2 linked regions of the Homo sapiens genome follow. The protein of the gene in region 1 interacts with the protein of each later gene in a pairwise test. Each region holds a gene or a part of one and is shown in the gene's direction. Other genes may lie near its edges.

What was found. The genes of interacting proteins can lie anywhere in the genome.
Region 2: the proteins of ANXA8 (region 1) and RNF11 interact in binary tests that used the Homo sapiens proteins (3 or more experiments, as listed by UniProt).

Annotation. Positions count from the first base shown.
Region 1 is NC_000010.11:47,470,805-47,474,115, reverse strand, and holds part of ANXA8 (annexin A8), read left to right. Parts: intron 1-50; coding exon 51-146; intron 147-1,095; coding exon of another isoform or gene 1,096-1,154; exon of another isoform or gene 1,155-1,917; intron 1,918-1,924; coding exon 1,925-1,983; intron 1,984-2,731; coding exon 2,732-2,854; intron 2,855-3,311. UniProt on the Homo sapiens protein: This protein is an anticoagulant protein that acts as an indirect inhibitor of the thromboplastin-specific complex, which is involved in the blood coagulation cascade.
Region 2 is NC_000001.11:51,267,273-51,270,609, forward strand, and holds part of RNF11 (RING finger protein 11), read left to right. Parts: intron 1-2,683; coding exon 2,684-2,853; intron 2,854-3,337. UniProt on the Homo sapiens protein: Essential component of a ubiquitin-editing protein complex, comprising also TNFAIP3, ITCH and TAX1BP1, that ensures the transient nature of inflammatory signaling pathways. Promotes the association of TNFAIP3 to RIPK1 after TNF stimulation.

The DNA of each region.
Region 1 (3,311 bases):
GGGCATCACGAGGAGGTCTGACCATCCCCTGAGCAGAGCCCTCTCCACAGTGTTTGAAGAGTATGAGAAAATTGCCAACAAGAGCATTGAGGACAGCATCAAGAGTGAGACCCATGGCTCACTGGAGGAGGCCATGCTCACTGTGGGTAAGAGCTCAGACTTGCACGTTTTTCAGGCCACAGGGCTCACCGTGGGGCAGCACCAAAGAACAAAGGGCCTAGGGATGCGACCACAAGAGAAAGAATCCCTGTGTCACCTTCACGGGATGTCCCCCCGACTCACACTCTGCCTGTCTCCCTCACCCAGGGACTGCTCCACCTCTAGAGTCCCAGTGTGTGCTGCCAAAGATTGTTCTCTGTGCTGCCCACGTGGTGCCCAGTGCTGTGTGGGTGTGTCTGCATGAGTGTGTGTGTGCGTGAGAGTGTGTGTGCCTGAGGGTGTGTGTGCATGACTGTGGGTGGAATGTGAGTGTGTGTGTGTGAGACAGACAGTGTGTGTGTGTGCGCACACAAATGCATACGCCAGTGATTATGCCAGCCCCAACCCTGTGTGTACTCATGGCAGCCATGCAGGGAGCACTCTGGCTGTGGTTGTGAAGCCCTGGCCAGCACAAAGTCATCTTTCTGGACATGAACCAGGGGCCTGGCCCCTGCCTTCATTGCCAGTTGAAGAAACAGTGATGTGTGGCTTGAGTCCAAACTGAGTGACGGATGGTCTGATGCTGAGAAACACTGGGGATCTTCCCCACAGCAGGAAGTCAGGGCCACTCAGGAGGACCCACTCCAGAGCTCTCATGGGTTCCAGGGCTGAGATCACAATGGGAAGAGTCACTGCAGAGTAAAGAGCTGAGGCCCAGGGCAGAGGGACGTCTCTTCTCCCACTTACACACAGAGCCCAGGTCCGGACTCCTGGCCTGCAGCTCTCACCTCCACACCAGGCTGCCTCCGTGCAAAGCCAGCAGCCAGCAGGCTCCCTGCTGTTTCCTAGCCTCTCTGGGTGGACAGGGCCATCTGAGACACCCCAGCTGGCCTTGGATGCTGTGATACAATCCGGTCTATGTCAGGACATCTAATCACACCCCTGCTCCAATCTCAGCTTCCACCCCTGGATCTGGCCTGAACCCACCAAGAATGAAGTCTGCCAGCAGGGAATAGTGAAGCCATGCAGTGCTCCGTCATGCTGGGCCTTCCTATTCACTTCACCTTGAAGCCTCGCATCAGTCTCACTTCCCAGATGAGTCAGGGAGGTTGAGTAATGAAGCCATACTGCACCATCAAGGCAGGAAGTGAACACATGCCTACCTCACTCAAAGCCCATGCTCCTTCTGCAGCCCTAAGTGAAAATGCCAACCTTCCCCACCCAGATGCCAAGTCTCTGAGCAGTACCCATGGGAGCAAGCATGGGCCCAGTCTCTGGACCAGACGCCCCCAGGTGCCTTAGTCCTGTGGGGCCAAACTCCACTTGTCACATGGGAATTCAAAATGCAGGGTTCCTGCTGATAAGTGTGAGAGAGAGGGCACTCTGAGGCCAGCAGCCACCATCCCATGGTGCTTCTGTGGAGCTGAGAGGCTGGATTTTTGGTGGAGGTGTCTCTGGGTTGAGAGCCCAGGGCCTGTCCTGAGTCTGAGCTGCCCTTGGATGGGCTTGAGCTGGTGTCTTCAGACGAGCCCCACAGTCTGGTGCATTTCACATCTTACCCTTTTGCCTGCCTGCTTGGGCCTTTGGAGCTGTGCCCAGTGCCCCGGGCTACCTTCCCTGTCCCACGCCACCTGACACAAAGCCTCTCACATTGGGAAAGGCACGGAACAAAGAAATATGCCAAGCCTTGCACAACACTGACTCTTAAGACCTAAGGCAAGACATAAAGTTGTAGGCAGTGCCACCTACCAGCTCCAGACATTAACACAGCTTTCTTGTTTGCCAGTGAAATGCACCCAAAACCTCCACAGCTACTTTGCAGAGAGACTCTACTATGCCATGAAGGTAACTGTCCTGTCTTCTTCTTCCTGACGCTCACCCTACATAGCACCAAGTGCAAAGCCAAGGAGCTCAAAGCCACCACGATCCTCCACACGGGGGAGTTATCTTACCCAAACCTGTCGTGGATCAGAAAGGTTTTAGTTCTCGGAGGTGAAATTGAGTCTGGGAAAGGGACGCTGCATCTCCAGAGGTGAATAATTCCCTGAAACTAAAACCATTGCCCGTTTTCTCTGATTGATGGTTGCTGATATCCCCTGAAGTTAGTTCCACACCCGAAACCCAAGCCCTCTGGCCACTTCTGCCCAGGAAATGAGAGAGGGCATGCGATTCCCTTGGCCATGTGGCCCCAGCTGACATGAGACTGGTCAGGGATGAAGGTGAGCAGGAAGGCCCTGCCTGTGAAATTCCTGGCTGAGCTGATTGCTGCCATTGCTCTAGTAGGAAGTCTTGTTCCTGGAGCAGTGAGTATTTTGTGTCTAGAATCTGATGTGGCAAACCAAACATACTGCAGTTTGGAGCACTTGGCATCATAAAGGAAGAGTTCTGGGCAGTGGGTGAGAAGGAATTAAGGGAGTGGACACCCTAAGCCACCAAAGCTTCCCTCCTAATGCTTCCCTGGCTGAAGCACAGGCTCCTTCCCACATCTCCCTCCCTCTAAAAGCCCCAGAACCCAACCACACAGATCCGTCCATCACTCAGAGATGGACAGGAAAGGTGAGGCAGGATTGTTGATGGCTGCTGTCTTGCCCAGGGAGCAGGGACGCGTGATGGGACCCTGATAAGAAACATCGTTTCAAGGAGCGAGATTGACTTAAATCTTATCAAATGTCACTTCAAGAAGATGTACGGCAAGACCCTCAGCAGCATGATCATGGTAAGCAGGCATTCCCAATGCTGAGGCCAGCCTGAAACCCAGACATTCAGGGAAACCTGGAGGCTGTGGCCAACACTACGTGAGCCCCTCCCTTCCCAGTGGGCACCATGTGCTTGCATTCATGACCATGTGGTGTGTGCAGGGAACAGCAGAGGTCAGTGTGGCTGGATCCCAAGGGGAATGGGGGGCAGAGGGGAGATGCAGAGACCAGGGCACAGAGGCTCCCCTGTGTCCCACTCAGAAAGTTGGTTTCACATTTAAGTTATGGTTGCTCCTTGGAAAAGACACCAAATCCTTGCAGAAGAAGCCACCTCTGAAAAGTCAATGAGATGAACTAGTCCGGTAGGAATCGGGCCCACCGCTCAAATCCAGATTTAAGTAGTCCTGGCGGCCAACTTCTAAGGAGATAAGTCAGATGAGCGCCAATAGACTATCTAACCAGATTCCAATTAGCAAA
Region 2 (3,337 bases), on another chromosome or scaffold:
CAGCTGGGGACGAAACACAGTAGCTTTGCAAATATAAAGTGGGAGCACAACCTAGCACTGGCGTTGGAGGTCCTCAAAACAGTCCCCAGGTTTGGTGATTCAATAGGAGGGCTCTTAGGACTTAGTATATAATCTTACTCACATCTATGATTTGTTACAGCAAAGAATCAAAGCAAAATCAGCTAAGGGGAAAGGTGCTTTGGTCTAAAGGGAACTAAGCACAAGCTTCCAAGAGTTATCTCCTAGTGGAGTCACACAGGACATGCTTAATTCCTTCAACATATATGAAAGGTTTTCTGCCAGAGAAGCTCATTTGGAGACTCAGTGCCCCAGGTACTGATTAGGCACCCACTGCCTAGCATATGACAAAATTCCTGATTCTCAGAGGGGAAGCAGGTGTTGAACATAAACCATATAGTGTTCGCAGATAGGGAATGGTGGGAACCACCCCCAAATCCATATCTTTTTTTGTTGTTAAGATGGAGTCTCTCTCTGTTGCCCAGGCTAGAGTACAGTGGCAAGATCTTGGCTCACTGCAACCTCTGCCTCCCGGGTTAAAGCAGTTCTCTTGCCTCAGCTTACTGAGTAGCTGGGATTACAGGCGTGCACCACCACGCCCAGCTAATTTTAGTATTTTTAGTAGAGATGGTGTTTTACCATGTTGGCCAGGCTGGTCTCGAACTCCTGACCTCAGGTGATACGCCTGCCTCGGCCTTTCAAAGTTCTGGGATTACACGCATGAGCTACCATGCCCAGCCATCACATCTTTTAAAATTGTTGTTTTTATACCCCTGTCTAATCTTCTACTCACTCAGTGTCTGTTAGCCAACAATTGAATCAGGATTCCATTTTGCTGCCTAGAAAATCAGTGGCTGTCTAGTTATGAAACAATTGATAACTCAGATATCAAGCCATTTTAAAACAAGTATCATGGGAATTAAAATTTAAAATTAGGCATGTGTGGTAAGAAGGGTGAGGCCACATTCATCTTTAAAATATCAGGAGGTCTTAGTCATTTCCTTTCCTCTATGGTTTTCTGAACCATGTAAACTGAAATTAGATTGTTCAATCATTTTAAATATCTAAAAGATATAGAGAGGGTTCCTTTGTTTTAACAAAAAAATACCAAAGGAGAAAATACACTCATAACGTGAATTAAAATATAGTTTTTATTTTCTTCTTTAATGTTTATTAATGTTTCCCCGTAAAGTAGAACTTTCCTTTTCTGTTCTGCTTTCTGTGTTCTCTACACGTATGTGAACCACAAGACTGAAGAAATCTAGCCTCTGAAAAACCCATAGTTGGAGTTTATTTTCTCTAAAACAATTTAGTTATTTTTGTTTGTTAGGTTCAAGGATTTAAGAGACCCTTTATATTATCTTAGTCTTAAACCAATTTGTTCCCAGTTTGCGTGTGGATGACAGCTCATCAAAACTGGTCAACTAGGACTGAGGCTAAGATTCAGGAAGGTAATTTAGACTGGAAATGGTAATTCAAGGGTTGAAGAACTCAGAGCTGGCAGAGATCACAACAGAGTCCAAGAGTTTGTAGTATTCAAAGAGAAGCCAGAAAGCCAGGACCAAAGCCAAGGACAGTAGCACTTAGCTTAAAGTCTGCAAAGCAGAGAATCATGATGGGGAGAATCATGACGTTGGGGAGATGTTAGAATAATTTACAAATATTGGCATTTACAAAGCTCTTAGTTATCTCATGATTATATCAACTCTTTAAAGTGGGTACTGTTATCTGCTTTATTCAAAGACATTAAGAGACTTGGTCCAAGCAATCACAGTAAGTAGCCGAGCTGAGACTGAAATCTTATAATTTAATTCTTCAGACTGAAAATCTCATCTTCTGAGATAGTAGTGTTTTTCAGACTGCTCTGTTGATTCTGAGGATTCTGCAAAGGTAACCAAGGTGAGGGCTTGGGGATGGGGAGCCTCATCCCTTCTAGGCCACACTCCATCCCAGCTTCATTCCATCAGAGTTGCTCAGTTTTAAATATTATTATAGGCCAGGCACCATGGCTCAACCCTGTGGCCCCACTACTCAGGAGGCTGAGGTTGGAGGATTGCTTGAGCCCAGGGGGTTGAGTTTACAGTAAGTTGTGTTTGTGCCACTGCACTTAAGCCTGGGCAACAGAGGGAGACCCTATCTCAAAAAAAGGTGGGGGTTATACACACGATTCCTTTGAATTGTTTTGTTGTGTAAAAAATCAGTTGGATTAGGAGCAGCAGAATTCTAATTTCAGTATTGTCAATTAGTGACTGTAGGCAAGCTTGGTCCTATGAAATGGGAAAGTTAGTCTTAGATAACTTTTAGATTTATTTTTGCCATAGTCCAGTCCATTTAAAAAGTTTTAAAAATTATTTTTAGAGATGAGGTCTTGCTATGTTGTCCAGGCTGGTCTCTTATCATGTGGAAATAGTTCATTTAACATTCCATGCCAGTTCAGTGAAGTCTGTGTTTATATCCTTTAGGCAGAATGAGAATGTTTTGGTGTGTGTATGTTTTATTCTAGTAGCTGAAGTTAAGGCAGGGTGAAACACAGTCATACAGCCAAACACTAGCCCAGCTTCCTACCCCTCCCAGGGCTCCCTTTCCCTTCTATCTCTGACCAAAAAATAAGCCCTCGAAAGGTTTTTAAAAAATAATCTTTTTCCTCTATATTTTAATATTTTAGGAACAAGTTCCAGTTCCAGTCTACCACCCAACACCTAGCCAGACTCGGCTAGCAACTCAGCTGACTGAAGAGGAACAAATTAGGATAGCTCAAAGAATAGGTCTTATACAACATCTGCCTAAAGGAGTTTATGACCCTGGAAGAGATGGATCAGAAAAAAAGATCCGGGAGTAAGTTTTAATTAATTTGTACATTTCAAAGTTTTATTTTCAGATTGCTTTTGAAAAATTTGCCTTTTCTCCTGCACTTTAGAAAGTCAGACATTTAATATATTGAAACACTTCGCTTAATGCAAGAGAATGTTTAATTTTTTTTCATAGCTCTATTACTGGCTACTAGCAAGAGAATGTTATGTAGTAATTAAGAATTTTCACAGGCCGAGCACAGTGGCTTATGCCTGTAATCCCAGCACTTTGGGAGGCTGAGGTCGGGGGATCACTTGAGGCCAGGAGTTCGAGACCAACCTGGCCAACATGGTGAAACCTCATCTCTACTGAAAATACGAAAATTAGCCAGGCATGGTGGCACGCGCCTGTAATCCCAACCACTTGGGAGGCTGAGGTGGGAGAATCACTTGAAACTCTGTCTCAAAAAGTAAAATAAAGTAAAATAAGAGAAAGTTAGTGTTAATGAAGAGAGCTTTAACTTACAGCA